4 separate regions of the Homo sapiens genome follow, and all the other regions are linked to region 2. The links come from fine-mapping of genetic effects on gene expression. A gene starts in region 2. Each other region holds a variant in brackets. All regions are shown on one strand. Distances are from middle to middle.

The links. PIP is the estimated chance that this variant, and not a neighbour inherited with it, causes the effect.
Region 1: its variant is fine-mapped to the expression of NCKAP1 in blood mononuclear cells (TOPMed, PIP 0.98).
Region 3: its variant is fine-mapped to the expression of NCKAP1 in Th1 cells (Schmiedel 2018, PIP 0.95).
Region 4: its variant is fine-mapped to the expression of NCKAP1 in whole blood (INTERVAL, PIP 0.97).

The regions. Positions count from the first base shown.
Region 1 is chr2:183,058,208-183,066,519 of GRCh38, reverse strand. LOC124900540 (small nucleolar RNA SNORA77) reads left to right here and starts at 2,174; the gene lies at 2,174-2,285. The variant C/G (reference allele first, on the strand shown) is at 5,246.
Region 2 is chr2:183,033,548-183,041,860 of GRCh38, reverse strand. It overlaps NCKAP1 (NCK associated protein 1), which reads left to right and starts at 3,404. Exons shown (of 31, transcript NM_013436.5): 1 at 3,404-3,869. The coding sequence starts at 3,762. RefSeq lists silencers at 2,831-3,482, 3,215-3,804, 3,865-3,984.
Region 3 is chr2:183,245,556-183,253,810 of GRCh38, reverse strand. No RefSeq gene overlaps it. Among named protein-coding and RNA genes, the nearest start is that of NUP35, 130 kb to the right of the region's middle. The variant AGT/T (reference allele first, on the strand shown) is at 4,787.
Region 4 is chr2:183,107,797-183,116,109 of GRCh38, reverse strand. No RefSeq gene overlaps it. Among named protein-coding and RNA genes, the nearest start is that of NUP35, 12 kb to the left of the region's middle. The variant A/C (reference allele first, on the strand shown) is at 3,951.

The sequences.
Region 1 (8,312 bases), 25 kb before region 2:
ATAATGAAAAGCTGGGAAGAAATATGATCAAATTACTTTAAAGAATCAGGAATAATATGGATAATGTGAACGAAGTTAATAAAATCCTAGGATATTAAAAATAATAGGGAACATGTTTTGAAGTTTAAAAGAAGTACTTTTATGTCAACTAAAAGGATATGGTGGGTAATGAAGTTATTGAATGCATTGTCTTATGTACTGGTAGAGACAGCAACAGAATAGTATCCAACAAGCTGAGAAGATGTTTGGATTATACATCAACTAAGGAAAGCATCCCTATTTCTGGATTTGTAATTGATGAATTAGAAAGCTATAGCACTGTCCCTCAAAATTTATTGTAGTGTCAGTATTATTTAGAATAATCAACTGGTCCAATACAATATGACATGTCTCTTTTTTAATCTTGAATCCTTTCTTTTTCAATTGAGTCAGGAGTCCCCTGTAACTTTTTTCTTGGAAATGTTCCTAAAAACCTGTATATTTTCCTGGAGCTATTTATGTAGATATTTTATAAGGATGAATAGTTAAATGCTAGAAGCACTAGAGCTATACATAAAGGTGAAACGCTAACTCTTTTCAAACAATGGTTATTTAAAGACATATTAATTAACCTGGATGAGGCTATGTAGAGTGAAAAGATGTTTTTTCTGATTTCTGAGGGGTCTCTCATTCTACATTAAAAATCTTTTACTTCCTGAGACAGATTTAAAAGATTAAGATTTTAAAACTTTATATGTATTTTTAAAGGCGTGGATCTAATTATTAATACATTGATAAATAATATTTCATTTGAGAATAAGCCATATTAGATGGACAAATTTGGGGGAAAAACTTCACAAGTTATTCAGTACTGAAATTCTAGAAGGCAGTGTGATAAGAGTACTAAAATGAAAGCAAATCAAGGTTATATAATCAGCTTTTTTGCTGACCTACGTTTTGTATTTTGTTGATTTTATCTCTAAAACTACATGATGCCTAAGTTTGAAAATGGCAGCAAATACTGAGAAATCATATGTGACTTTTTTTTTTTTTGAGGCAGAGTCTCACTCTGTCACCCAGGCTGGAGTGCAGTTGTGCATCTCTGCTCACTGCAACCTCCGCCTCCCGAGTTCAAGCGATTCTCCCGTCTCAGTCTCCTGAGCTCCTGAGTAGCTGGGATTACAGGCGCGTGACACCACCCCGGGCTAATTTTTGTATTTTTAGTAGAGACAGGGCAGGGTTTCATCATGTTGGCCATTATGGTCTCGAACTCCCAGCCTCAAGTGATCTGCCCACCTCGGCCTCCCAGAGCTCTGGGATTACAGGTGTGAGCCAACCCACTTCGCCCATACATGGCTATTTTTAATGAAAAGATTGTGAAAGATGATTAGTTTTTTTATAGTTGTACTTTTTGTGTACTCTTTAGCTATTATAGGTTGTTTGTTTACTAATCAGATGTGTTAAAATCACTGTCTTAAAAAAGCAGAAAACATGTATTTTGTTTATTTTATGTATATTTCTTGTGATTCTATAAAACAAGTCAAAGTACATGGCTTACTTTAAAGATGTGTTTAAATACATATGCAGTAATTAGTCTTGAAAAAATTAACTCTGGTGCATGAGAAAAGATTTCTTTTCACACAAGAAAAGAAATAGATGAATGATGGCATGTAGCTTCAAAGCTAAATGTGGCTAAATCATTGGTGTATTTAATCACTTGCATGATGGAGAAAGCATTATTATTATTACTATTATTATTATAGTTATTATTGTTTACACTACTGAATTCAGTACCCTGCGTTGCACCCTATACACAATGAAGCCTTTGAAGTTTCCAAGGAAAATAGAAAAAACTCCAAATTGTGGAGGAAAAAAGATTTCTTATTGACTAGTTCAATTATTCAAAAGAATTGTTATTATGATGTTTTGCATTTGATTTAAAACGATGGGGGAAGGAGGGTTGTAAACCAAACAGAATAAGCCATATGTTGATAAGTATTGAAGCTGGGTGACGGATACCTGGGAGAGGGCTTAATTTTACTATCCTTTCATTTTTTGTTTGAAAATTTGAAAACATCCATTATAAAATGTAAAGAAAAAGGTAAAAATATTAAAGCAAATTAACTTTATCAGAATATATGCCTTTGTGATCTCGGCAAGTGATCACTGAAATGTTAAAACCTTTATTTTCTTTGCAGACTCCCTCAGCATCCAGCGGGTGCTTTTTCGGTCTGCCAGTGAGCATTCCATGGTGCTGTGACCATTTTGACCTCTCTAGGGTGATGCAGCTGCCTGGGGACACAGAGGGTAAAAAATTCCTGAAGAAAAAGAAAAGTCCAAGTGGAAAAAGGAAACAAGGCCAGGCGCAGTGGTTCATGCCTGTAATCCCAGCACTTTGGGAGGCCGAGGCGGGTGGATCATGAGGTCAGGTGATTGAGACCATCCTGGTGGCTAACAGGGTGAAACCCCGTAAAAATACAAAAAATTAGCGGGGCATGGTGGGGAGCACCTGTAGTCCCAGCTACTTGGGAGGCTGAGGCAGGAGAATCATTTGAACCCGGGAAGCGGGGAGGTTGCAGTGAGCCAAGATCGCGCCACTGCACTCCAGCCTGGGAGACAGAGTGAGACTCTGCCTCAAAAAAAAAAAAAAAAAAAAAAAAAAAAAGGGAAACAAAAGAAAGAAGGAAGGAAGGAGGGAAGGAAGGGGAAGGGAAGGAAGGAAGGAAGGAAGGAAGGAAGAAAAAGAAAGAAAGAAAGAAAGAAAGAAAGAAAGAAAGAAAGAAAGAGGGAAAGAAAGAAAGAAAAAAAGAGAAAGTACTTAATTAGCCAGAGAGGGAGAGAGAAACTAGGTAAATACCTATGCCCAATATTGAGTGCTTTGGGAAAAATAACTCAAGAACTTTTTGTAATATTTTCTGAGTTTGTTTTTTACTTTTTTTGTATTTCTACTTTAAGAAGCAGTGATGTCTAAGAAACATGCTCTCATTTATTTTACTTGTTAAGTATGTTGTTACTCTTTAAACTTGATTCAGACTACTTTATGGTGTTTTTAAAAAGTGGTTTTTATATCATCATACAATATTACATTTTAAAATGTCTAAGATGTGCAGGCCCTTCCACCACCAAATGTCAGCACTACATGGAATTTTATTATTATTTTACAAAAAGAGGAACAACATAACTTTATTGTGCATGTGTTCACGAGCTCTTGTGCATCTGTGTGTAATAATATAGCTATTTATGTCTTAGCATGGATGACTCTAACTTGCAAGCTGTAGAGTCACACAACGTGTGCTCATCTCCATGGTAACCATTTCTAAGATAAATGCACTTCTGAACAATGGTCCCAAAATAGCCTATTACCCATTTTTGTAGATTTCCACTGTGGCAGCAAAAAACAATTTTGTAAAACCTTGATCCATTCTTTAACCAACAAAAATAGAGACAACAAACACATATCCAGATCTGCAGAGAAAATATTGTTAAGTGTAATGACATTTTCTACAACAAACTCAGGATTTCGTGGATCTGATTTTTATTTTATGAATTATCTATACTTAATGTCTCTCCTGCAACTTTTTGACTTCCTACATTTAGCTATTTATCTGTTCTGAGATTTCTTTTCTTTTTTTTCTTTTTTTCTGAGACAGGGTCTCACTGTCACCCAGGCTGGAGTGCAGTGGCAAGATCATAGCTCATAGCAACCTTGAATTCCCAGGCTCAAGGGATTCTCCTGCCTCAGCCTCCTAAATAACTGGGACTATAGGTGCACACGACTGTGCCTGGCAAATTTCTTTTTTTTTTTTAATTTTTAGAGATGGGGGTGTTACTATGTTGCCCAGTCTGGTCTCCAACTCCTGGGCTTATGATCCTTTTATCTTGGCCTCCCAAAGCATTGAGATTATAGGTGTGAGCCACCTTGTCAGGCCTGAGATTTCTTATCTGTAAAATGAAGGGGAAGAAATTATCTCCAAGGACTTTTTTAGGTCTAAACTTATGATTTTATGATTTCTCCACTCAAACCATTATGAGAAGGGAAGCAGGGGAAATAAAAACAACTGAAACTTAAGTTAGGCAATCTTTGCCCCTTGTTAGGTTAAATAAAAGAGACTTTTAAAACTATTTACCGGGCCGGGCATGGTGGCTCACGCCTGTAATCCCAGCACTTTGGGAGGCCGAGGTCGGTGGATCGACTGAGGCCAGGAGTTCGAGACCAGCCTGGCCAACATGGTGAAAATCCCCCGTCTCTACTAAAAATACAGAATTAGTTGTGTGTGGTGGCACATGCCTGTAATCCTAGCTACTCAGGAGGCTGAGGCAGGAGAATCGCTTAAACCCGGGAGGCAGACGTGGCAGTGAACCGAGATCGCTCCATTGCACTCCAGCCCGGGTGAAAAGAGTGGGACTTCATCTCAAAAAAAAAAAAAAAAAAAAAAAAAAAAAAAAAAAAAAAAAAAACAAATAAAACTATTTACCATCACAACTGGATTGCATTCCCATAAATTCCAAATAATTTAGTCTTTTTTTCCTATTAAAGTTGACAGCATTTTCTTAAAGTTTAGAATATCTTAATTTTCCCAGTGAGAATAGATTGAAAAGTGTTCTCACAATGGGGAAAACCACTTTCTGTAATTTTAAAGATGCTCATCCTTCACATACCCCTCCACATTGGCTCTGCTGGGGTTTTGATGTCAGACTCCTCTAAGAAAGCAGGAAAGCCTTTGTGAACCTCAAATGAACAGGGGCAGAATAGATGTCAATGAAGAGAATGGTAAAAAGCAGAGCTGATTCTACCCAGCCCTCTTCAGCTCCTGGGAAATGGAAAGCTGACTACTTGGGTTTGGTAGCTCTACCACTCCCCCTAACACTGCAACTCCCAGTGCCATTAAATTATCTATGTTCCAAGATTTAGAGGGATAGGGAGAAGATAGGCCCTTTTTTTAAAAAATTTTATTTTATTATTATTATTATTATTATTATTATTAATTATTTTGAGACGGAGTCTTGCTCTGTCTCCAGGCTGGAGTGCAGTGGCGCTATCTCAGCTCACTGCAATCTCTGCCTCCCAGGTTCAAGTGATTCCCCTGCCTCAGCCTCCTGAGTAGCTGGGACTACAGGTGTGCACCACCACACCCGGCTAATGTGTTGTATTATTAGTAAAGACAGGGTTTCACCATGTTGGCCAGGATGGTCTTGATCTCCTGACCTCATAATCTGCCCACCTCAGCCTCCCAAAGCACTGGGATTACAGGCGTGAGCCACCACG[C/G]CCAGCCCCTTTATTTTTATAAGGGTAAACCTTTTTTCAGAGCAGGCTTTGGCAGAATTGTGACACCATCTTTTTCCTTTGAAAGCAATCCTTATTGACCGCCCAACTCTGAGCACATTTCTTTGAAATGGTTTCCTGCCTTTGGAGTGCCACATCTTCTCTCACAGCATTCCTGAATGCTGATAAGTTCTCTCCTTCTGCTCTCTTCAGGGAAGGAGAATGTTATGCCTGTCCGTGTAAGAGACCACCTGAGCAGGCTTAGTGTGAGCAACAAGGCTGTTTATTCACTTGGGTGTAAGTGGGCTGAGTTTGAGAAAGGAATCAGCGAAGGGTGGTGGGATTATCGTTGATTCTTATAGGTTTGGGATAGGCGGTGGAGTCAGGAGCAATTATTTGCGGGCGGGGGATGGATGTTACAAAGTACATTCTCAAGGGCGGTGAGTGTGTATTGTCACAAGCGTGGGGAAGAATGTTACAAAGTACATTCACAAGGTTGGGGAATATCACAAAGTACATTATCACAAGGGCGGGGGAATGTCACGATGGCTCGACCATGGTGCGACCAGCTCAGAGGACCTTACAGAGAACTTCCTCCTTCTCTTATCAGGGCATAGGGAACTTCTTACAGCACATTCTGGCCAGACCAAGACTATCGCTGTTATTCTTTTCCCAACCCCAGACCCCACCAGACCCACCCCTAAACAGACTAACTCCTCTTACACCTTCCTCCTCAATACAAGGCTGCCTACTGACCTAATCCGTGCTAACAAAGGGAAAGGGGGGTCTGGAGCATTTGCATCTACCTTTTGGACGTAAGTATATTTAAAAAGCCACCCTCTGCAGTCAGTGCCACTACATTTTTTGGCTAAAGCAAAGAATGTTGGGGACTTTAAAACAGTAGAGCAGCACCATAGAATGCCTATGAATGGGATGGTTTAGGCAATGGGCTCTTCAGTGCATGGTTTCCATCAAAGTGCCACAGAAGATGTAAAACAGCTCAAGTGCAACTTTATTTTGGTTCCCATAAATTAGTCTGGATTTTGTACCTCAAATGTCCAACCCAATCAGTCATTGTCCACAGGCCAAGTGGGACTTGAGATCACTATGCCTGTCTTGTCCTGATCCCTTGTCAGACCAAGAACGGATATACCTCTCAGAAGGCCCATTTGTCTGAATTACATAATCTTTTTGGTTATGACCCTAGAACACTTTAAAGAGGCAGATATACATTACTAAGACCTGCCTACCTACATTTTCTTTCATTGGCATATAATTCCTACGAAATTTCTTGGTGTAGGTTTACTATATAACTCCTGTAACTCTTTCCTACTATGAGAATTTAGATTGTGTCTGATCTATGTTATTATTAAAAGCATTTCTGTAATCCCTGGGTGAGTATTACTGTTGACAAGACAGGTAGCACAAGTCCTGGTAGCTTCATGCCTGCCAGTTCTTAAAGAAGAGCAAATTACTTAGAAGAAAAACAAAGTGATTCATTCAGTAAGTGGTTGATTTTTCTCTCTTTCCACATGGTGACTCAGCAAAATGAAAGCATTGGGTACATTCTTACTTCTCGAAGAAACCAGGATTTAGGAAGCACTACTCATATAATTATGATATCACATGCTGTTAGCTTAAGTTCAGTTTGATAGACATGTTTTACCCCTTGGTTTGGCTATTGCCAAGAGTGTCACTTTGATATTTGTTCTTACCATCTCTTCTTTTTAAAATGTTGATAAAAATTACCATTAAGAAATGTGAAAATGTCTAGCTTTCAACACCTGTAGTCCCAACTATTTGGGAGACTGAGGAGGGAGGACTGCTTCTGGCTAGGAATTCAAGGCTACAGTGAGCCTGTGAATAGCTGGTGTATTCCAGACTGGGCAACATAGCAAGGCCCTGTCTTTAAAAAAAAAAAAAAAAAAAAAAATTGGCCGGGCGTGGTGGCTCACGCCTGTAATCTCAGCACTTTGGGAGACCGAGGCAGGCAGATCACAAGGTCAGGAGTTCGAGACCAGCCTGACCAACATGGTGAAACCACATCTTTACTAAAAATACAAAAATTAGCTGGGCATGGTGGCGTGCACCTGTAATCCCAGCTGCTCAGGAGGCTGAGGCAGGGAAATCGCTTTAACCCGGGAGGCGGAGGTTGCAGTGAGCCGAGATCTCACCACTGCACTCTAGCCACTGCACTCCAACCAGGGCGACAGAGCAAGACTTCGTATCAAAAAACAAAAAAAAAATTGTGCTGGGAGTGGTGCTGTGCGTTTGTAGTCCCAGCTACTCTGGAAGCTGAGGCACTAGCATCTCTTGAACCTGGCAAGTGGAGGTTGCAGTGAGCTGAGATCACACCACTGCACCCCAATTTGGAGGACAGAGCGAGATTCTGTCTCAAAACAAAAAAAAAAGAAAACAAAAAGAGTTTCTATTATATTATTTTTTATTCTAATGTATTATTTTAGCATAAATAAGAGTTCTGGTTTAGATTACGGACAAAACCTTTACATTCAGGTTTGGAAAAATGTCATTAAGTGTCAAAGCTGGGTGATCATTACATGGGAAGTTAATATACTCCTCTATTTACTCTTTTCATGTTTGAAATTCTCTGTAATAAAAATGTTTTTTTTGTTTGTTTGTGTTTTTGACTGCAAGTTCTGCCTCCCGGGTTCACGCCATTCTCCTGCCTCAGCCTCCCGAGTAGCTGGGACTACAGGCACCTGCCACCACGCCCGGCTAATTTTTTGTATTTTTAGTAGAGACGAGATTTCACATAAAACGTTTTTTAAAAGCCCAGATGCAATGGCTCATGCCTGCAATCTCAGCACTTTGGGAGGCCGAGGTGGGCAGCTCACCTGAGGTCAGGAGTTTGAGACCAGCCTGGCCATCTCAAACCCGCCCCTATTAAAAATACAAAAATTAGCCAGGCAGGGTGGTGCAGGTGCCTGTAGTCCCAGCTAGTTGGGAAGCTGCAGCAGGAGAATTGTTCGAAACCAGGAGGTGGAGGTTGCAGTGAGCACAGATCGTGCCACTGCACTCCAGCCTGGGAGACAGAGGCAGCCTCCGTCTC
Region 2 (8,313 bases):
AGTCAGACCGATAAGGGATCCAATATCAGCTTTACCATTTTCTATGGGTGTGATCTTTGGCAATTAAAAAAAAAAACTGTCTGCATTTCAGTTTTCTCATCTGTAAAATTAAAGATGATAATATCTCTAAAGGTTTTTGAAAGAAGTAAATGAGAAAATGTAGCTCAAATTGTAACAACATCTGACACAGTGCAAAAACCATAACTATTAAATCTAGTTATCCTCCCTTATTTTATTCCTATTAGAGATATTATAAAGTTGGCCACAGAAACTTATTATTGAGGATCACGTTTGAGGATTATTGAGAATCACGTTTGGCTGTAAGTAAATAAAAAAAAAAACAAATAAAAAAGCTAGAAGTTTATTTCTCTTTCGTACAAAACCAGGTCTAGACAGGCCAAGTTTGACATGGCTGTTGTGTTCTAAAAAGCCCACATACACCTTCCATTTTTATGTTTTGTCATCCTTACTGAGTGGCTGTTGTCTTCCTGGTTCAAGATAGTGGTCATTGCATCCTTGTTGGGTGTGGCAGAATGAAGGAAGTGAGGAAGAACTGGCAAATGGAGAGCAGCAGCAGTCCCTTTAGGAAGGTTCTTGACAGCTTATATCTTACTGGTCAGAACATAAGCTGCAAGGGAGGCTGGATGATGGATGTACTTTTCCTTTTTTTTTTTTTTTTTTTTTTTTGAGACAGAGTCTCACTCTGTCACCCAGGCTGGAGTGCAGTGGTGCAATCACGGGGCTCACTGCAACCTCCTCCTCCCGGGTTCAAGTGATTGTCCTGCTTCAGCCTCCCAAGTAGCTGGGATTACAGGCACGCATCACCATGCCCGGCTAATTTCTGTATTTTTAGTAGAGATGGGTTTCACCATGTTGACCAGGCTGGTCTCAAACTCCTGACCTCAAGTGAGCCATCCACCTTGGCTTCCCAAAGTGCTGGGATTACAGGAGTGAGCCAGCGTGCCTGGCCTCAATTTCTCTCTTTCTTTCTTTCATCTCTCCTTCCTTCCTTTCCTTCCTCTCTCCCTCCCTTCCTTCTTTCTTTCCTTTCTCCCCTCCCTTCCCCTCCTCCCTCTCCTCCTCCTTCCCTCCCTCCCTCCTTTGCTTGCTTGCTTCCTTCCTTCCTTCCTTCCTCTCTCTCTCTTTCTTTCTTTCTTTTTAAGACAGGGTCTTGCTCTGTCACTCAGACTGGAGTACAGGGGTGTGATCACAGCTCACTGCAGCCTCTGCCTTCCGGGCTCAAGTGATCCTCCCACCTCAACCTCCAGAGTAGTTGGGACCACAGGCACGCCACCACCCCCAGCTAATTTTTAAATTTTTGTAGATATGGGGGTCTCCCTATGTTGCCAAGGCTTGTCTTGAACTTCAGGACTCAAACAATCCTCTTGCCTTGGCCTCCCAAAGTGTGGGGGTTACAGGTGTGATGGAGCTTGAGCCTAGCAGTTGAAGACCAGCCTGGACAACATAGGGAGACCCTGTCTCTACAAAAAAGTTAAAAAGTTTAAGAAAAATTCCCGTACACTTGTTCTTTTTAATGCAAAATGTAGAGAAAGACAAAAATTGTAATTCATCTACATCTAATCTCTTTTACGCAAATATATACATTTCATTACAGTCTAGGGCCAGTATGTCTATGAATTAGTGACAATAAATATTGAATAATGAGACTACTATCTACAGCGTTCTCCTATTGGGTACTTCCTGAGTTATAAGCAGCTACTAGTATTCAAGTTTATATGGCAACATGATAGTTTTTCTTGGGGAGTAAGAGTTGTGTTCAAATTTATAATACAGTGCCATTTTCTTGTTCTCCCTATACAGCAGTTTTTAAAAACTAGAAAATGAGACAATCTTTTATTGGTAGCACTCTGTAATTCTGCGTCTAGACTTAGTTATTTGTAGTCTCCCTAAAGGAGCACATATTTCCCCAATGTTCAACATTTTTAAATTTTCTTATCTGGCTACCCCAAACCCCTCCTCGCAGCCTCCCCTTCTCAGGTCTGCCCTTACTATTCCAGGCCCCACAACCTTGCCTCCTCTAAATTAAAATGTTAACTATCAGGCTGAGAAGTAACCAGATAAATTAAATTCCTTGACCAGTTAATGACTAGTAATAGCTCGACAGATGATCTCTCTGAAGTGTTTGTATTCTTAAGACTCTCTAGGTACAAAGCATTCATTCAAGGTACTGCAGCTTTGTATATAGAATTTCAGGCACACTGGCAGGTATGATTATGACTTCTTTTGGTGGGAACAGGACTCTTTTAAATGCCCCTTAGATTAAATCCATTCAGTCCACTCCTTCTTTCTTGTTGGAATATTAAAATGAAGATTTCTTTACGAATAGTAGATATAGTAGCTTTAAAAAATATTTTAAAGCTATTCATTACAATTTCCTTTTCTTAAAGAGTTTTGATAAATCCAGTGATGGCTTATTACTCTTAGAATGTCTTATTGAATGTGGCGGGACATTTTGTTACTGACTTAAAATTAATGAATATAATATAAAAAATTAACATATCGAGAAAAGGCAAAGCCAAAAATATTAGAGGCCTGAGTCCTCTTGGCTGAAGTTTCTCACCTCAATTACGTAAGTCCTCAGTTAGTTCACTTTTGGAATCATGTCTAATACATTTGACAAGGGAGTAGCCTTGGAGTGTCGCTAAGAAGAAATTGATCAGGAAAAATGAGATGGCAAAGAAGAATGTTTCCAAGAAGAAGTGGGATTTAGGGTGGAGGCTGTAAAAAAATGGGAGCGGTTCCTTTAGGCATTGAACAAACATTTATTTTTTGCCTTCCACATGCCAGGACCTACTGCGTCTCCTCCGGATGGGTGCTCCTCGCCGACAAAGTCTAGATTGTGATTATCTCAAGGACTTGAGTTACCCTCACTTCCGACCTCCTCTCTCACAAACTGGTTCCAGGCGGGGAGACTGAGGATGGGCTGGGGAGGCTGGCAGAGGCGATCCCCACCTCGCGGAGCACAACATCTGCTGTGTTCTGCGGCGAGCGCCTGTCAAGCAGTGGGAGGAAAAAGCGCTTGGAGCCACCAGCCCACTCTTAAGCGAAACTCGCCTGGAAAACACCCCGCCTCCCAGCAGAGTTTCTGCCGGTTTCTTTAGAAGGGTGGTGCGGAAAAGCAACTTTTGGGAACTTGAAGGAGTGGGGTGTGGGGCGAAGTGGAAAGAGCACACAACGCGACCCCACTCAGTCCCCGCTTGGGACTCCCATCCCGGCATCAGGCGTAGTGGGCGGTCCGGGCCAGGGCCAGGGCCAGAGCGGCGGCGGCGAGGCCATGCCGAGGGCCCGTCGGCCGCAGTTCCCCGTCCGGCCTCGCGGGGGCGCCGGCGCTGCCGATCAGGTGACCGAGGGCCCGTCCGGGGCTGCGGGAAGCGGCCTCGTTCTCAGCCGCCGGAGACGCCGCCGCCGCCGCCGCCGCCGCCACACCTAGTGGAGCAGCCGGGGAAGGCGGCTCGTTGGGGGCTGGGGCGGAGAGCGCCGGGGGTGGGGGCGGAAGGGCGGCGGGCGGAAGGCAGGAGGCTGCCGGGGCGCGGGCTGCTGCGGGAGAAGGGGCTCCGAGGAGTCCGCCGCGGCTCGCTCTGTCGCCGGCGCGGGATTGGGGCGCGAGGGCCATGGGCGCGCTCTCCTAAGGCGGAGGTCGCGGGCGGGAGGGGAGGAGGCCCGAGAGAGGCTGCTGCGAAGGCCGCGGGCCCGTGACTGGGCGCGAGGCGGCCGGCGGCGGCGGCGGCACCAGCACCACCATGTCGCGCTCAGTGCTGCAGCCCAGTCAGCAGAAGCTGGCGGAGAAGCTCACCATCCTCAACGACCGGGGCGTCGGCATGCTCACCCGCCTCTACAACATCAAGAAGGTGCGCACGGGCCGGGGAGGCCGCGGCGGAGGCGGGCGGGCCCGGGAGGGATGAAGGGCAAGGGAGGCCGTGGGGTGGGGGCGGCAGGAGGCGCCGGGTGTAGAAATCTCGGCGTCGCCGCCCGAGGCCCGGCCCGGGGTCGCCTGGATGCGCCGCGGCCTAATGCGGAGTCCCGGGCGCCTCTCCCTGTGGTTCGCCGGCCGGCCGAAGGCAGAGAAGCCATTTCCCGGCTCCCGGCGGCGGGATCGGGCGCTGGGCCTCGCACGGGGTGGGGGCGCCGCTGGGAGCCGGGAGCTGTCCCCTCCTCGGCGCCCCCGCCCCCATGATGGGGCCCATAGGAAAGGGAGGGTGGTGGGTGGGCGAAATTCTAGGTGGGTAGGAAAACTTGAGTGTTCCATATTCTTACGGAGATGGCAGCAGTGAACAGGGATTACACCCCACATCCCCATTTTTTGGTGTGGGAATGTGGGTAGAGAAGGGCTGATTGGATGAATCCCGTATCCCCTCCACTTTGCCACTTTATTTTAGATTGCTAAATAAAAAGCCATTGAGAGTGTGTTGACGATTTGGGATTATTTCATTTTGAAGGTGGAGAGGAGGGGGAAGTGAGGGTGGAACCAATTTTCTGAAATACTTCTAGGCTGTGAGTCACTAGAACTGGAATAACAACCTTCTACTCTTTCCCCTGTACTCCTCCTCATGTTAGATTTTCCAATACCATTTCTTAAAGTTCGGTGTCTGTACAAAATAAAAACCGTAAAAATGTTGCAATTGCTGCTGATTTATAGCATAGTCTGATAATTTGAGCAACTATAGCTAATAGGCCCATTTAAAGGCTTTTACATGTCCTCAGTACAGTAAGGAGTGGAAGACCACTGGAAGTTTAGAAAAGTCCATGTAAAGATAGAACAAATAATTACATTCATTATCGTAGGACAAAACAACAAAATCTCTCCCCTTAAGGCAAGGTTGGTAAGTTTTAAACAATTTGATAAAGAGAAAAAGAGATATTTGGAAAATTTAGATCCATCGAGTTTCCAATGTGTCTTTGATGTCATACCTTCATAACTATTTGTTGGCTTTTTAATATATCGTGAATGTTACCGTTTAGTTTAATCATAGCAATAGATTGTAGGTTGAGAGGGCTTCTGAAGAAAGGTTTTTTTTTTTTTCTTTGGAAATTCATTTCCAAGCGTTTGAGTGTAAAATTGATTTATTTTTTACAATTTGATGTAGACACTAATTCTAAAGAGTGTCCTGGTTTAATGATGATAAATTTTGGATAAGGACAAAGTCTGGTTGCTCACCTAATTGCAAGGCTTTATTACTCTAAACCCAGTGCTATCTGGAGAGTAACTGCAACATGCTTACTCAGTTTGTTACCTTTTATGTGGCAGGAGCTCAGTGTCATGACAAAGAAGCCCCTCTGCATTTACCAAGGAGCCTAGGTTATAAATTTATATAGGTTAGGAATAATTCAGTTTTAAATAGTATTACTTAGAGGTTGCATTGACCTGAACTGTTCGGGGAGATTGTGCTGCTTAAAAAACTTGGAAATTGATTCCTATATGAATTTTGTCCAAAAATGAACAAGTCAAATATTATAAAAGTTACTAGACCTGTGGTATTGTGGTTTAAAGGAAATGGTTATGATGGTTTCTAAAAGAGGAAGTGAGAGTAACATCAAAAGTGATTTGGGTATTTGGGCAAAATACCTTTTCTAAGCATTTATTAAACATTTTTGTAGGATAAATGCAATCAAACTTTAATATCCCACCTTCATAAATAAGATTAAATGAAATTCTGGGCATTTGAACTCTAATAATTCCAGTTCATTGCCTTTTCTCAAAAGCACTGTTTTTTTCACTTCCTGTTTTGGGAAGCTTCAGCCTCTTGTATTATTGAACTTGTGAAAGTTAAAATGCATTGAATGTGATCATTATTATATCCATGTCAAATATTTTGATTTATTGAAACGTCATATTTTAGCACTTGCCTTATATTTTTAGTTTCTTAAGAAATACATTGCTTACCTTGCTTGAGTGTGAATTTTCTCTGGGCAGGGACAGTGTAATTTTTGAAATACTAGAGTATTTAGGGCCTTATCTGATACTCGAGGCCTTCAGTTAGGCCAGGTTGAAATGAATGAATTACTTCCCTCCTCTCTCTCAAAACCTGTGTGCTCTAGTTTTAATAATAATACCCTTGGGTTTGCTCCCTTTGTGTAATTTTGCATGTAAATGAATCAGATAAGATTTTGGATCTTTCAGCCTATAGAATTGTCTGTGAGTCTGGCATATCTTCCCAGCTGGCTAGGAATTGAAACATTTGTTCAAATATCTTGCCAAAGAAGTGAGTAAGATCTGTTCACCATGTGTTTATTAGGTTCATGCTGTCTGCATTCTTACTGCATTATAAACCACATACTCTTTTCAATCTCAACCTCTTCTAGTCTTAAAAAAAAAACCTTCCACCTCATAATACATGTTTGCCAATCAATTATCACATTTTCATTAATGCATGTGCATTAGATTGTCTACCAGATCTAATTACTCTGTTTCAATTGGAAGTATACAGTGGAAATGATATTTTAGTGAACATATACAATGAAAAATAGTTAAGTAAAATAACTTATTATTGTCAGTAATATGCTTTGGCGCTTATTAGGGAAGTTGGAGCATGATTACTGAAGAATGTTTTTTTTTTTTAATTTCATCAGTCAAAAATTTTGAGATCTTAATATTTACAATTTATGGGAATTTTAGGGAACTTGTAGTTTGACGGAGGATGTAGGAACACATAAAAGCGGATTTTAGGGAAAAGACTTGAAGGTTGTTGGTAGCTTTACATTTAAATTTATTTGTTGCTTAATTCCTTTTTTTTTGTTTTTAAATATATGGTTTCCCTTTTGCAGACCTAATAATGTGACTCACTCATGTAGAGATTTGTAACATTTTTAAAGGTTCCAGCATGGCAACTTGTGTGGTGGTGGGATTAAGAGCACTGGGCCAGAAGTTAAGAGACTTGCATTCCAATCTTCATTCTGTCACTGAGAGTTCTCTAACATTGGTTAGTAATTTGACTTTCTTGAGCTTCACTTTTCCTCATCTGTAAAATGGGGAAAATTAACTGTAAAAGGAACACTAAAGTCTATTCCAGCTCTATCTTTATGATTTTATGGTGAAGTAGTAGAGTAGAAATTATGTTTCATTTTAAACAATAACTGAACTCAGTTTAGTTTTCTGTAATGTAGGGAGCATAATGCCTGCCCTACATACTTCACAGAATTGCTTCTGAAGGTAGAGGATGGTAATATGTGAAAATAGTATTTAGGAATCTGAGCATCTCTTTTGGGCAACATTGTTTTTCTGAAATTGTATAACTGTTCAACAAAACTGCCAAATACCCAAAGAAAACATTTTGCTCAGTTAAATTTTTGTGTGTGTGGTTTACTCTCTTCTTTTTTTCCTTCTCCTTTCTTTTCCTCCACCATTACCAACATGAGATTAATCTCTGTATTAAAAAGATCTTAGTTAATACTTGCGTCTTTTCCTCCTGTTAAATTTCTGCCTGTACTGTAAAGGTCAGAGAATGAGAAAAAAAAAAAAACCCATACAACTATTACAAACTTTTTAAAGTGGAGTATTGTGGTGGTTTAAATGCAGTTTTACTTCTTTAAAAACATTAGAGGAATATTTTTCTTTTTTTCCCTATCCTTTTCTCATTATTTTGGATAAATTTATTTTCTAAGGAAAAGTTTAACAGGACTAGCATTGTAAAATTGAAAGTCTTTAGCCAGTATCTGCTTATTTAGTGGGGGAAGAAAAGATGTTTGTGAAGGGAGCAGTGCAGGGTAAAGGGAGGGGAACTGGTTTTAGTCTTCCCTTTCAGTATTGTATTTGTTTCCACTTAGGGTGTTATTTTCTCTTTTGGTCAATCAGATGCAGAAGCGTGTTCCAGAGATGCTTAGGAAAATAATTATTTTTAATTTTTAAGTAGCAATGATAAATAATCCATCTTTTGTTTCCTTTATGGAATTGTTAAGTAACTTTAAAATTTTTTAATGATTACCAGAGGAATATATGTTTATTGTCAAAAACTCAAACATAACATAAATGAGTGACTTCAAAAATTCACTGTCTGCCCATCTTTATAACTTTATAAGCTACTGAATTGTTAGTTTGTAAGTAGGGTTGTATATGTGCCAGTTTGAAATGATTCTCTTGTTTTAAGTAGAAGAACCCATACTGGAAAATGCTTTGTTATTGCATAGTTGACTATTTTAGATAGTAATAAAATTGCATCTTTAAAACTGTTTTATAAGCCATCATATGAGCTATTCTTTCAGTTACTCTCAAATATTGAGGTTTTCCCTTTTAATTTATTCATTTACTCTTCGTTTATTGAATGTGTTCCCTGGCATGAGGGAAATAGAGGTAAATTA
Region 3 (8,255 bases), 210 kb before region 2:
TCTCGCCGTGTCTCTTTTTACTTCTGCTCCCACAGCCAAATGTCAGCTTTCCATATATATATCTCTCTCACATCCAAATCCTCAATAAAGTAGAATGTTGTTGGTCAGAAAAACTCTCTCTTTGAGCAGCCTTTTGTACTCGGCACCTTAATGCTGATTGGATAGTTCTGTGACAGATGACCCTTGTCTGATTAGACACGGGAAAGAAGACAGCTGCTTGATTGGTGGTTGATAACTGATGAGTGCATGGATGCCCCTGGATGCAAAAGGGCCTAAGAAAAGCAGCACCTGGCTGGGAAGCTGACCCCCAGCAATAACCCCAGGCCAGGAAATGAGAAAATGAGTTTTCAGTGTATAGTTGATCGTCTCTGCCCGTTTGTTTTAGCTTGTTTGTGTTGCTGTCTGTTCATTAATTTGTTCATTTGTTTTTAAGTGTAGAAGATGAGAGCAGGGGAGCTCCCAGAACAGAGTTTAAGTAAATTAAAGGAAGTTTCTATCTGGAACTAATAAGGATTATGGAGATGAAGATGAATTGTCAGGGCAAAGCAAAATAATTAGGAAAAGACTAGACTAAAACTGGCAGGAGTTTTTGCATCAAACTCTGGTTTTGTCTTCAACTAGTTATATGTTTTGGGGGCATTCTGGGGGGTAGGTACCTATCACAATAATTGCTAAAGTAGTTTAGCAAACAACCCAGGTGCTCACTCACCTCCCGTCCCCCCTCACTCCCACTGCCACTGTAACATGGTTGCCATACCAGAATTCTTCCAGAAGATAGGGAGGCTGTTATTGGAAAAGTGCTTCAGAAGTGATTTAGATAAACCCACTACCACTCCACCACCCTGGTTTACAGTCATTGGACTAGCTGACATCTCAGATAATGCTTTGATTCTTTTATAACTTACGAGTTTCAGAAGTAATAAAAAATTAAAAACTCTTTGGAAGATAATCATGAGACTGTACAGGCCGGGGATGGTGACTCATGCCTGGAATCCTAGCACTCTGGGAGGCCGAGGCAGGTGGATCACCTGAGGTCAGGGGTTCGAGACCAGCCTGGCCAACATGGCAAAACCTGTCTCTACTAAAAATACAAAAATTAGCCAGGCATGGTGGTGGGTGCCTATAATCCCAGCTACTTGGGAGACTGAGGCAAGAGAATCACTTGAACCCAGGGGACAGAGGTGGCAGTGAGCTGAGATTGCACCACTACACTCCAGCCTGGGCAAAAGAGCAAAACTCTTTTTTTTAAAATCTGTAATATAAATTATAAACATAATTTTATAATAGTAAGAAGTTTAGAAACCATCTGAATGTCTATCATAACAGTATAGCTGGATCTCTATGATACATTAAATGAGGGAAAAAATGAACACTATAATACTGATGCAAATATTTATTAAATAAGCAAAACAACAATTTAGAGTTCCAACATTTTCTATATATACATATCTAAATATATTAACAAAGCCTGGAAGGATCTTTGGGGAGTGGAAAGGAGGAAACAAAGATGGGGAAGTGGCCCAAAGGAACTCTATTCTCTCTAGATCAGAGCTTTATGTTTTTAAAAAGGAGAATGTACTCATGCAGTGTATGTATAATTTAGTTAATTTGTAAAGGAAACAGATCAAAATAAGTTATTTGGAGGCTCCTGCCTGACTGGCACACCTGAGCTTCTTAGAGGATATGTCACACCCACAGCCCCTGCTGAAAATTTTCATTCACTATTCCACCCATATTTAGTGAGCACCTGCCATGTACTAGGCTTTGTTCAATCTAGGCAGTGGTGGTGCTGCTGCGAGCAACTGCTCGGTGTTCTTCCCCATATACTTGCTTCTTCTGCTAACTCATCATTCTGCCTCTCCTACTCCATAACTTTGAGTTGCGTGTGGCTTTGGTTTGCTATAGAACCAGCTCCCCACTCTAACACTTTGAAGACAGTGTCATATAGTGGCTAGGCACAGGCTCTGGAGTCAGACTGACTGGGTTCCAGTACCAGCTCTACTACATCTTTTGTCAACTTGTATAAGCTATTTTACTTTTTAGTCATGCCTCCATTCTTTATTTGTAAAATGGAATCACACTGATCCATATCATACAGTTGTGACGATTAATGCATTAAAACATGAAAAAAGCCTAGGACAAGAGCTGACACACAGTAAGCTCTTGACAAATATTAAATGTTATTACCAGTATTTTAAGAGCCAGTCACAAATAACCAATGTCTCAGGTCAATTTTTTAAGAGAAAATCCAATCAGCTCAGTTCATTTGAGGGCTTTACTTCTCCTTCTCATGTTGTTCACATATGGCCACAAGATTATCCCTGACCATAACCTCAAGACCTTATATGATCCAGCTTTGGCTGGTGTGATGGTTAATACTGAGTGCCAACTTGTTTGGACTGAAGGATGCGAAGTATTGATCCTGGGTGTGTCTGTGAGGGTGTTGCCAAAGGAGATTCACATTTGAGTCAGTGGGCAGGGAAAGGCAGACCCACCCTCAGTCTGGGTGGACACCATCTAATCAGCTGCCAGCACAGCCAGAATATAAAGCAGAAAAACGTGAAAAGGCTAGACTGGCTTAGCCTCCCAGCCTACATCTTTCTCCCATAGTGGATGCTTCCTGCCCTTGAACCTTGGACTCCAAGTTCTTCAGCTTTGGGATTCAGACTGGCTTCCTTGCTCCTCAGCCTGCATAAGGCCTATATTGTGGGACCTTGTGATCATGTGAATTAATACTACTTAATAAACTCATAAATATATATAATATCATATATATATATATATATATATCCATCCTATTAGTTCTGTACCTCTAGAGAATCCTGACTAATACAGCTGGCCCCGCCTGACCTCCTCAAGTTCACCTGGGACCATTTGTTAAAAGTAACTTACAAAATAAAAAGAGAAAGAAAATAGAATTCTGACATTCATTATAAAACCTGACTATTGTTCTTGTATTTTCTATTCATGAATTTCTCTCTTTTTTAAATAATCACTTTTTTCTTGAACCATTTGAGTGGGTTCCTGTTCCTTGCAACCAAAGAGCCTAGAATAGAACAATTCCTTCAAGTAAATGGGTCACACACAAAATATCCTCATACTCATTGCTTATGCGCAAGTGTTGTACAAGTGACTTATTATATAGGAATGATGTTCGAGAGAAGTAAAAGCAGAAAGCCAAGTCTTTTTTGTGGTTCAAGAAGAGAAAAGATGCTCTGGGTGGTAACAGCAGAGTGTCATTCAGATGCAAAATCTAACCAACCCTTTGTGTGAGAATCTGTTTTATTACCTTAAGTTCTATTCTGTATTCATTAAATTGAACCCTGAAGGGACTTCGATTTTGCAATATGTCATTAGTTACAATGCTAACCTGAAAGTCAAAACTATATTTTGTTTTAGAGTATTCTATAATTCTAATTTCTCAGAAATTTAAACTGCATTTCTTTGCAGTCTGATAAAGTGAAATTTTTATCTGTTTACTAGGATGATAGGAATGATGTGGGCATCCCCTACCTGTTCAAACCCGCACATAACCTGCTCCATGGCAACTTTGCCCATACTGAAGAAATAAAAACACTTCTCCCTGGAGTCAGCAATTGGCAGCTGCTTTGCCTCAAGGACAAGGTCTATGTCTTTTTTAACTCAATCAGCTCAGCACCACGCCAGTGCCCTGCACAGACAGATGCTCCATAAATGCTTTTGAATCGACTAAGATGGCCAGAAAATGTAGTGTCTTCTCTCCTTTCTTCACCTGCTGCCTAAAGTGAGCTGAGAATTGGTAGGAACATGTTGGGAGAGAGAATGATAAAGGCAGAACTTAGATGCTGAGCCTAGCATTTAGAATAATAATGAAATTTTCTGAGAAGATTCTTCCTAAAATCCACATGTATTCAGATAATCCCACCAGGAAATATTACAGGTGATAAATTCAGCACAATTGCATTTTCCCCAGGTTCCCAGGAACATTTTATCCATCTCAGTGTGGTAGCCAGAAATCAAAAGAAGAGAGTGCAGAATTAACACCTGCACATTTTTAAGGATTTAATGAAATATTTATAGACTATTTCAGCCTTCTAATAAAAGTTATTACCCTTTGGTTGGTAAGTGTGACCTCCAGGGGACAATAACATTCTATTACATCTTAAAATTCTATAAAGTTATTAGTTATCTCCTATGGAAAACAATCCTTTATTGACAAGAGATAGGATGGATAGTCTAATAACTGAAATGATTCCATAAATAAATTTCAACTTGAAAGCTCTGTTGGATACACTTACCAAATCAGAACTTTAACATTTGTTATTACAGGACTCTCAAAATTATAGCTAAGTATTGCTGAATTACATGGGCACATCAGAACCAGCTTTACTCTTGTCTTGCAGGACATGTGATTATGAATTGTGTAAGAAAACTGATCAAAAAGAAATTATATATTTCCTGTCATGACTAATAGTCTCCTCTCATGTCTTCCTTTTAGGTCTATAAAGCTAATAAAATATAAGTCTGAATCATTAACAAAACTCTAAAAAATGAACACTGCTTTTCTAAAAGGAGATAAATTATGTTAAATAGGTTGTTTCCGAATAGATAAAAAGTTTTGAAACATACACTTAAATTTGTACATATGAATGAGATTGAAACATATTATGTGTGTGTATGTATATAGAATAGTCTAATGCTTTTTCATTTGAGATGGAGTATAAATAAAGTAAATTGCACCATCTGCTGGCTATATTTGGAAACAGACTCTAATTCTAAGCTCCAAGGAAAGGAGGTAAGAATTGAG[AGT/T]TACCTCCAAATATCAGGAAAAAGGCTACATCCAGCAAACAATGAAAAACATCAGTGCACTTCCATTCAAAGCCTTGAGGGTTCACTAGAAAGCCACTCAATATTGTAGAATCAGTTGCCATCTCAGTCCTACCAAGTGTTTCTGCCCTGGTGCTGGCATTATCAAAACAGTGAAATTCATGTCAGTATTTCTCATCATACACTGCAGACCCAACAATAAATACTAAACTTTAATGTTGGGAAATCCAAAGCCCATTCACACAAACAGAATTGCCAGGCTCACAGCATTTGGAGCTCATATTTTGGTAAAAGAAGTTCGCAACTCATCAAATTTATAAATCTTTTAGCCAGCCAAATTCTGAGTAATGTAGTACATTTGAATACACTTTAATAAAAAGAAGAGAGTCTCCAAATTTGGAACTGGAGGCCTGTTGAGTCCTACCTATGAGCTGAGATTTATAGTTATATTTCCTAAGTTTTAATCCAGCACTCTTAAAAAAGATACATCCATACCACAGCTTTCAGCGACTTCACTAAGTTTATCATTCCAAAGGTAAAATATTGTCCTATATTCTCCTTGCTCACTAGTCCTCTTACTCAGCCTGGTATTATTTTCTCTTTCACTGTTAAATTAGGTGAGTGAGGAGCTTTCCTATCTCAAGATGTCTGAACACTACCCCGTATTAATATTCACTCCCTACTAATTTTTCTAACTTGTTCAATCACTGTTGCATTTGAAATATTTTATCCTTGTTCCATCTACTACACTAAATCACATCTTGAAAAATTCAATTACAAGTTCAGGTGAATGATTTGAACTTGGGTTTTGTTGTTTATGATGCCACTGGAACGCATCAACTGTGCTGCATTCAATACAGGGAGCACATTACTCTTTACACAGTAATAGCTTCTTGTGAGGCTCTGGCTTACTGTAGACCTGGAGCTTATCTGTAAAATCTTTTTCTTTCCTAGTGTATTTTTCATGTTGTGAACCTGAATCATTTTTCTATTCTATTATGAAGTACTAAAGTAACTTGTATCTTGTTGTAAAGAGGAAAATCAACTTATCTTTTGAAGGAGTCCAAGTTTTATATTGAATGTAAACTATTAAATGCAGTTTTCCAACTGGATGTGACAATGTAGGACAAATGTTCTTGTCAATGATTATTTTCAAGGTGATTTAATCTTTCTCAAAAAGCAAGTTATATTTAGCCATTACTTTGGGGGAAAGGTAATTTTTTCAGTTAACATTTCCTCAACCCTGACATTTTCTTGCTTTTATGTATTTATTATTTGAAATCTCTCCATTATTTCAACAGTTCTTTGAATACACAATTCAACCCAACAATTTAATAAATGTTACTAAAGTCTTCTTGGCAGGAGCTTGTAATCTAATAGGGAAAAAATACAAAAACAGCTATTACAGCACAATGTGGTAAGAACAATAGTGGAGATATACTGTGTGCAAAGGCCCTTGTCGCATCCTTTACAGACTGAGAAAGACATCAGGCAAGAAGTGACTTGAGCTGAGCTGGCCCCTGAAGGATGGACAAGAATTTACCACCTGGCAAGGGACAGATGGGGAAGAGATTTCAGGCAAAGAAAAAGCATGTGAAAAACTCAAGATGTGAAAGAATGTGTAAAGTTTCCTTTTTTCCATTCCCAGTTCCTGCGACATTTTAGATGAAAGGTTCCACATGGAGAACTGATTTTCTAATAATGTCAAATATAAACTAAGGAAAGTTTAAATTTTTATAAATGAAATACCTTTTAGTAAACATGTCTTCAAATATAAAATCTTTATTACCAAAAAATATATATTCAACTGTATTTTATAAATGTTTTCAGATTTCTATACATGGTCAGTGGCAGGGAAGGAGGGGTTCCTGAAGGAATAATTAGGTGCCATGGAGTCAAGTTTAGTGTGATTACAAAATAACCTGAGAAAGATCAGTATAGGTATATCCTTGTAGAGTTCGCTGGCAAGAAAAAAAAAAACTAGCTTTGCTTTGTACTCAGAATAATCCACAGTCAGGTTGGATAGCAGGGCTATGACCTTGTCAATGACTTTATTTTCTAAAATAAGATAGGTAATTAGTTGTTCCTTTTGCTTTTATTAGGATAGACACAATTGGGAATTTCTGCATTTATTTTCATAGGAAGTTTCACCTGATTCTTAGCTTGTGGCACCCTGTGCTATTGAAACTGAGATTTAATGATGAGGAAATGAATAGAAACATGGGCTAAATACTCCTGGAAATAAATGCATGCACTTTAGTGCCACTGAGCAATTGGAAGTTTTGACAACTTAGGGCTTCAGGGTCACACGTTTACACTGCAGGAGATCTGCATTTTATTTCCACCAATTTTCCCTATGAGTGTGGGGTCAGAGGACAGAAGTATATGTGTTTCAAACATATGGGTATTTTTTAATTAGGAAAATTTCAAATGTATACAGAAAAATTAAGATTATTATCAACATAATCAAGTTTGTTTCATCTATAACTTCCCTCCTCTTGCCCAGATCGTTTTTGAACCAGTCCCAAACGTCAGATTATTTTCTCTGTAAACATATTAGTATGTATCCCTAAAATATAACTCTTTGAAAACAAGACCACAATACCCTCAAGAGATATTTTTACAGTATTAGAGATTAAACTTTATATAACTTCTATATCCAATTTATGTTATGTAATTACTAAATAACCTCTAGAAACATATATTTTGTCTTTTTCATGAATGAAAAGAAACTTACTAGCTAAACAGATCTTCAATAACAAAGCATTTTTAGACTACATATAGAGTATATATTTATAGGAAGAGAAAGCGTAGTATAACATATATATGCGTGTATACATATTCATTATACATATATATACACATATGTGTGTACATACATGTATATTTATTTACTCTTTATGTAAAATATATCCTAAATGACAAATAGTAACTCTTTAAGAATTTTTCTCAGTGGGACTTAGAATAAATTGGCAGAGTTTATGGGTCACTCATAGAGCAGAAACCAGAACCGTGCTCCCAGAGTGCCAGGAGAATTAGCAGAACCTTAGACGAAAGTGAACCTTCTGAGAAGGTTCTGAGAAGATGTAACACAAGAGGCCAAGAGTTTCAGCCCTAGCAAAAATTCCCACTCTGAGCTTAGTACAAAATGTATAGAGCTACTCTCTTTAAGGAATCAAATGGGATTGGACTGAAGAGCAAAGGATTGCCCCCCAAAAGCTATGAATGCATTAATTCAAGTACTGTGGACAAAATTTATACCTGCTTCAGGTATTCCCATATTTATTTGACTAAAGCTGGAATGGTCATCTACAACAGAAGGAAGCTTCCCTACTGTCTGAAGTCAGTCTACTGTAGAAGTAGAAGTAGAAGTCTGTCTACTGTACCCTGCAAGCTTACACAGTCTATTAAAAAGGGTTGAGAAACACTGGCCTGACATATAAATTCTC
Region 4 (8,313 bases), 74 kb before region 2:
CAACTTCTGGGGACCCAAGAAATAAAAATAAAAAATTTTGCCAGGCATAGTGATGCACGCATGTAGTCCCAGCTACTTGGGAGGCTAAGGTAGGAGGATAACTTGAGCCCAGGAAGTTTGAGGCTGCAGTGAGCTATGATCACACTACTGCACTCCAATCTGGGTGATAGAATGAGACCCTGTCTCTTCAAAAAACAAAAAACGAAAAAAGGAAAACATGAATCTTTCCTTGCTTGATAATGCCTTTGTTTAGAGAATCAGCGTGTTGTTGACTACAGGTGCAAATCTTGACTTCAAATACTTAATAGACATGTGACATTAACATCTCTAAGACTCTGTTTTAAAAATCTGAATAGTGTGAATAATTTTACCTACCTCATGTAATACATTGACTTATTTACCCAGCAATAGATATATATTAAATATAATATATTCAACAATTGAATTTTAGCCTAATGGTCTTATCTGTCATTCAGCATACGATGTAGCCTTTGATAAACTAATTTGGCTTCTTCCCCCATTAATCTGCCAAACAAGTCTTTCCAAAGTCACCAAAGACCTCTGATATGTTTTGGATCTGTGTCCCCACCCAAATCTTATATTGAAATATAATCCACAGTGTTGGAGGTGGGGTCTGGTGGGAGGTGATTGGATCATGGGGGTGGATTTCTCATGAATGGTTTAGCACCATCCCTCCTGGTACTGTCTTTGAGATAGTGAGTTCTCATGAGATATGGTTGTTTAAAAGTGTGTAGCATGTCCCACCTCACTCTCTTGTTCCTGCTTTCACCATGTGAAGCACCTGCTCCTGTTCTCCCCTCCACCATGAGTAAAAAGCTTCCTGGGGCCTTCCCAGAAGCAAATACCACTATACTTTCTATACAGCCTGCAGAACTATGAGCTAATTAAACCTCTTTTCTTATAAATTACCCAGTCTTGGGTATTTGTTTATAGCAATGCAAGAACAGACTAATACAACCACCATGAGGCTAAATCCAATACATTTTAGGTTCTAACCTTTTGTAACTTCTCAGTGTGAGTTCTTGAACACTCTCTTTGTAGCCTTCAGTTTCTCTGGCAATATACTCTCTTGAGTTCCCTCCTGCCTCTCTCACCATATGACCATGTCTTTTCTTGACTCATCCTCCTCTACCTAGCCACTAAAAATTGTTCCCATAGCCAGGTGCCAGTGACTCACACCTATAATTCTAACATTTTGGGAGGCTGAGGCAGGAAGATCGCTTGAGCCCAGGAGTTCGAGACCAGCCTGGGCAACATAGCAAGACCCTGTCTCTATAAAAATAGTAATAATAATAATAAAATTGTCCCCCAAGGCTTTATCTTATGATCTGGCCTTGCCCTACACTCTTTCCTCATATGTTGTCATCCATGCACATTGCCTACAATGACTCTCAATTCATATCGCCAGCCCAGATCATTCTGTGTGGTACAAATTTATGTATCCAATTACCTACTTGACATATCTATTTGACTTGGATATCTCAAAGGTACTTCAAAATCAAATTTAAAAAGCCAAACTCATGGTCTTTTGTATAAAACTTGAATATTTATCTCAGGGAATGGCACCACCAGCCATCTAGTTATTAAAGCATGAAACCATGGATGGTGTTGAAAACCTCTCTTTCCAACACAAATTCAATGCCAAGTCCTGTGAATTCTACCTCCTAAATACCATTTAAATGCATCCATTTTTTTTTCAATTTTTACTGCTTCAGCAAAATCTCAGTTTCATCACCTGAGACCTGGACCTAGCTTCCTTAATGATCTTGCTTTCCCTCCCTAATCCACTCTCCACAGTGCAGTCAGACTGATCTTTTTAAAGTAATATTCTGCATAAGTTTCTCTCCTGCTTAAAACTTTTCCATTTTGCTGGGTGCAATGAGTCACACCTGTAATCCTAACAGTTTGGGAGGCTGAAGTGGGATTGCTACAGGTAGTCCCACCTGCTTGGGTGGCTAAGACAGGAGGATTGCTTGAGCCCGGGAAGTTGAGGCTGCAGTGAGCCCTGATCATGCCACTGCACTCCAGCCTGGGTGACAGAGCGAGATCCTATCTCAAAACTTTTCAGTTTCTTTCACTGTTTAAAAGGCCAAAATCCTAGAGCTTCCTACAAGCCCCTGCTTGATGTAGCCTAACAGTCCAGCCTCATCTGACACCACCTTATCACTTCTGGTTCACTGCTCCAGCCATTCAGCCCTCTTTCCATCACTCCAATGTGTCATGCTCCTTCCCAACCCTGGGTCTTTACCTATTCTCCTCCCTCAGTTTTGGAAGACCTGCAACAACCCACTCTCCCTCACTTAGTCAACGCCTACTTATCTTTTCTAACCGATGGTAAATGTCACTCAAAAGTCAGGAAAGCCTTCCCTCATAACTAGATGAGGTTACTGTTTGAGTTATATATTTCTGTACTTTAAAAAATAATCCATATCTTCCCTCCCAACTAGATTATAAGCTCCATGAAGTCAAGGACTTGTGTTTTTTTCATTAAGCCTTTTAAAAACTTTATTTTTGAGATATTTATAGATTCACCAGCAGTTGTAAAAAACAATGCAGAGAAATCTCATGGCCCCTTACCCAGTTTCTCCCAATGATTACATCTTGCAAAACTAAAGTACAATGTCATAACCAGGATATTGAACAGTGATACATCAAGTTAAAGGACATTATTATTACCATGTTGCCCTTTTATAACCCCACCAACTTCCCTCTCCTGCCACCATTTCCTTAATTCCTGAAAATCACTATTCTGTTCTCCATTTCTATAATTTTGTCATGTCAAGAATGTTATAGTAGTGGAATCATACAGTATGTAACATTTTGGGGATTGACTTTTTTACTCAGCATAATTCTTTGTAGATTCATTCGGCTTGACGCACACACATCATTAGTTTGTTCCTCTTTATTACTGAATGGTATTCCATGGCATGGATGCATCACACTTTAGACAGCCATTCACCCATTGAAGAACATCTGGGTTGTTTCCAGTTCTGCCTATTACAAATAAACTGTCTATAAACATTCATGTACACGTTTTTGTATTAATATATATAATCATTTATCTGGGGAAAATGCCCAGGGGTATAGTTGCTGGGTCACACAGTAGTTGTGTATTTAGCTTTTTTAAAAACTGCCAAAATCTTTTCCAGAGTAGCCGTACCATTTTACACTTCCACCAATAACATATAAGTGATTCCATTTCTCTATATCCTTGCCAACATTTGGTGTGTCATTATCTCTTAGCCATTCTGGTGGGTATGTAGTGATATCTCATTGTGGTTTTAACTTGCACTTCCCCAGTAGCTATGATGTCGAACATTTTATTATGTGCTTATTTGTCATCTGTATATCCTCTTCAGTAAAGTGTCTCTTCATACATTTTGTCCATTTCCTAATTGGGTTGATTTTTTTTCTGACTGTTGAATTTTGAGAATTTTTTAAATATATTCTAGATGCTAATCTTTTGTCAAATACACGGTTTGCAAATATGTTCTTCCATTTTTCATCTTCTTAACAAGGTCCTTCAAATAGCAAAGTTTTTAATTTTGATGAGGTCCAATTTATAAATTTCCAATTTATAAATTTTTGCTTTTGTGGGTCACAAGTTTGGTGTCAAGTCTAAGGACATTTTGACTAGCCCTGGAACCCAGTGATTTTCCTTCTTTTTTTTTTTTTTTTTTTTTTTGAGATGGAGTCTCACCCTGTTGCCCAGGCTGGAGTACAGTGGTGCAATCTTGGCTCACTGCAACCTCCATCTCCCGGGTTCACACCATTCTCCTGTCTCAGCCTCCCGAGTAGCTGGGACTACCAGCACCTGCCACCACGCCAGCTAATTTTTTTGTATTTTTTTTTAGTAGAGACAGGGTTTCACTGTGTTAGCCAGGATGGTCTCTATCTCCTGACCTTGTGATTGATCTCCTTGGCCTCCC[A/C]AAGTGCTGGGATTACAGGCATGAGCCACCGCACCTGGCCAATTTTCTTTGATTTTCTCCTAAAAGTGTTTTAGTTTTCCTTTTAAGTCTATACTCCATTTTTGGTTAATTTTTGTTGAAGGTATGGGATTACATAGAATTTCTTTCTTTTTTTTTTTTTTTGGCCTATGGAAATACAGATGTCCAATTGCTCCAGCATCATTTGTTAAAAAGGCTACCTTTCCTTCATTGAATTGCTTTTGCACCTTTGTCAAAGATCACTTGAACATATTTATATGGGTCTACTTCTGGATTTTTTTGTTCTGTTCCATTGATTTAAGTGTCTGTCTCTTTGCCAATACTACACAGTCCTGTTTACTGTAGCTATATAACCAGTCTTGAAACCAGATTACTTTATTCTTCTTTTTCAAAATTGTTGTAGCTATTTTTGTTTCTTGCCTTTCCGTATACATTTTAGAATAATCTTGTCTGTATCTGTAAAAAGTCTTGCTGAGGTTTTCATAGGAATTTGATTAAAGCTGTGTATCAATTTGAGGTAAATTGATACCTTTACTACACTTAATTTTTCAATACATTAACAATTTTCTACATTTATTTAGATCTCTCTTTATTTCTTCATTAGCATTCTATAGCTTTTGGCATATAAGTTCTGTACATGTTATATTAAATTTACACCTAAATATTTCTTCACTTTTTTTTTTTAATTTTTTTTTGAGATGGAGTCTCACTCTGGCTAGAGTACAATGGCACAATCTTGGCTCACTGCAACCTCTGCTTCCCGGGTTCAAGCGATTCTCCTGCCTCAGCCACCAGAGTAGCCGGGATTATAGGTGCCCACCACCATTCCCAGCTAATTTTTATATTTTTAGTAGACATGGGTTTTCACCATATTGTCCAGGCTGGTCTCGAACTCCTGACTTCAGGTAATCTGCCTGCCTTGGCCTCCCAAAGTGCTGAGATTGCAGGCCTGAGCCAACGCGCTCGGCCTCTTCACTTTTGTTTTTTTGAGTGAGTGTAAATCATATTGTATTTTTAATCTTAGTGGTTGTGTTTGCTGCTAGCATGTGGAAGTACAATTGCATTCAGTTTTTTTGTAAATTCTTTGGAATTTTTTATGTAAACAACTATGCAGTCTGCAAAAGGAACTCTTTTATTTCTTCCTATCTGATCTGTTGCCTTTTATTTCCTTGTTTTGATTTATTACACTGGCTAGGAGTTGCAGCAATATGTTGAAGAAGAGCAGTGAGAACACACATCCTTGCTTTGTTCCTGATCTTAGGAGAAAAGCATTTAGTCTTTCACCATTAAATATAATATTATCTATAAGGTTTATTTTATTTTGTTTTTTATTTTTATTTATTTTTTTTTTTGACATGGAGTCTCACTCTGTTGCCCAGGCTGGAGTGCAGTGGCACAGTCTCGGCTCACTGCAACCTCCATTTCCCGGATTCAAGCAATTCTCATGCCTTAGCCTCCCGAGTAGCTGGGATTACAGATGCCTGCCACCACACCTGGCTAATTTTTTGTATTTTCAGTAGAGACGGGGTTTCACCATGTTGCCCAGGCTGGTCTCAAACTCCTGACCTCGTGATCCACCCGCCTTGGCCTCCCAAAGTGCTGGTATTACAGGCGTGAGCCACCGTGCCCGGCTATTTTTATTTTTTGAGATGGAGTCTTGCTCTGTTACCCAGGTTGGAGTGCAGTGGTAGGATCTTGGCTCCCTGCAACCTCCAACTTCTGGGTTCAAGAGATTCTCCTGCCTCAGCCTCCCAAGTAGCTGGGACTACATGTGCGTGCCACCATGCCTGGCTAATTTTTGTATTTTTCGTAGAGACGGGGTTTCACCATATTGGCCAGGCTGGTCTCGAACTCCTGACCTCAGGTGATCCACCTGTCTCTGCCTCCCAAAGTGCTGGGATTACAGGCGTGAGCCACTGTCTGCAGCTATAGAGGTTTTTTGTAAATGCTTTTTATCAAGTTGAGAAAGTTTCCTCTCTATTCTTATTTTTCTGAGAGTGATGAATTGGTGTTGAAGCTTGTCAAATGTTTTTTTCGGTATTAATTTACATGATTATGTGATTTTTCTTCTTTTCCCTATTAATATGGTTAATTATACTGATTTATTTTCAATAGTTGAGACAACCTTGCATCTCTGACATAATCCACTTGGTCATGCTACGTCATTCTTTTTATAAATAGCTGAGTTTTTTAAAAAGCTGTCTCCTACAGGAAGGAAGAGCTAAATTCTTTTTTCTAATATTTTGTTAAGGACTTTTGTATCTGTATTGAAGAGTGATCTTGGCTGTATTCTTTCTTTGCCTGTTTTGGGTATCAGGCTAATACTAACTTCATAAAACGAAATGGAAATCGTTTCCTCCTCTTCTGTTTTCTGGAAGGGATTGAGTAGATTTGGTGTTGCTCTAGGTACTACACTATATATACATAACTGATCACACTCTACTACTGTTATTTTAACTATTTCAAATAAAATATGGAAACTTTTATGCCCTTTTATCCTTCCCCATTTGCAATATAATTGTTTTAGATATTTCCTCTACATACAGATAAAAACACATCAGACTGTTACCATTATGGTTTAAACCCTCAAACTTAATGTAGTAACTCAAGGTGACATGGAAAGCTTATTCTATTCAGTCATATTTTGTTTGCAAAGTTATTTCTTGTTCCAAGAATTTTTTTCCTATATCATTTTGTCTCTGTTTAGAGAACTTCTTTTAAGCTATTATTTTAGAACAGGTCTGCCGGCCACAGCTTTTCTTCATTTTCCTTCATATAATAATGTCTTGAGGACAGGCACAATAGCTCACAACTATAATCCCACCACTTTGGGAGGCTGAGGCAGGCTGATCACTTGAGTCCAGGAGTTCGAGACCGGACTGGGTAACATGGTGAAACCCTGTCTCAACAACAACAACAAAATACAAAAAATTAGCTGGATATGGTGGCACATACCTGTTGTCCCAGATACTTGGAGGCTGAGGCAGGAGGATTGCTTGAACCTGGGAGGCAGAGGTTGCAGTGAACTGAGATCATGCCACTGCACTCCAGCCTGGGCAACAGACATCCTATCTAGAAGAAAAAAAAAAAAACAAAAAACCAAAAAGCAAGAATGTCTTGATTGATTTTCCCTTAATTCCTAAAGACTATTTTTTCTGGTTGTAGGATAAACATTTGAAAAATATGATGCCACTTCCCTTTGGCCTCCATGTCTTCTGATAAGAAATCCACTGTCATTCAAATTGTTTTATACAGACAGGGCCAGGCGCAGGGCTCACGCCCGTAATCCCAACACTTTGGGAGGCCGAGGAGGGTGGATCACCTGAGGTCAGGAGTTCAAGACCAGCCTGGCCAACATGGTGAAACCCCATCTCTACTAAAAATACAAAAAGTTAGCTGGGTGTGGTGGCAGGCGCCTGTAATCCCAGCTACTCAGGAGCCTAAGACAGGAGAGTCACCTGAACCTGAGAAGCAGAGGTTGCAGTGAGCTGAGATCGTGTCATTGCACTCCAGCCTGGGCAAAAAGAGTGAAACTCCATCTCAAAAAAAAAGAAAAAAAAAAAAAAGAGTCTGCAGTATCAAAGAGCCACATACTTCAGCTTGCGGTGGCGGACAAGGTATAGCTGTTCTTATTTGCTGAAAGAGAAAAGACCACAGAATTGAATACCAGTGATTTCCCGTTTTCTTAACTCTACTGAAAAGGTAATTTACTTTTTTTTAAGGAAAGCTTTTATGACTCTTCATTTTTCTATAATTAATGAGAATTGTAGTATATATTATTACTTATTGAAAGAGAGTCTTTGTTATTATAAGAATATGGTTTATGTTGTGAGAAAACATCATTCCTGAGCTACCCATGATATAGAAATCTACTTCAACTTTTAAAAAAACTGAGTGCCTACTATTAAGCCACATTATCTCATTTAATCTTTAAAAGTACTCTATGAAATATCTTTTTTTTTTTTTTTTTTTTTTTTTGAGACGGAGTCTCGCTCTGTCGCCCAGGCTGGAGTGCAGTGGCTCGATCTCGGTTCACTGCAAGCTCCGCCTCCTGGGTTCACGCCATTCTCTCGCCTCAGCCTCCCGAGTAGCTGGGACTACAGGCGCCCGCCACCTCGCCCGGCTAATTTTTTGTATTTTTAGTAGAGACGGGGTGTCACCGTGTTAGCCAGGATGGTCTTGATCTCCTGACCTCATGATCCGCCCGCCTCGGCCTCCCAAAGTGCTGGGATTACAGGCATGAGCCACCGCACCCGGCCTGAAATATCTTAAAAAGTTAATTTGCCCAAGTAAGCAGTGAAGTCAAAATTTAAATTGACAATCTGACTTTGGAGCTTAGACTCTT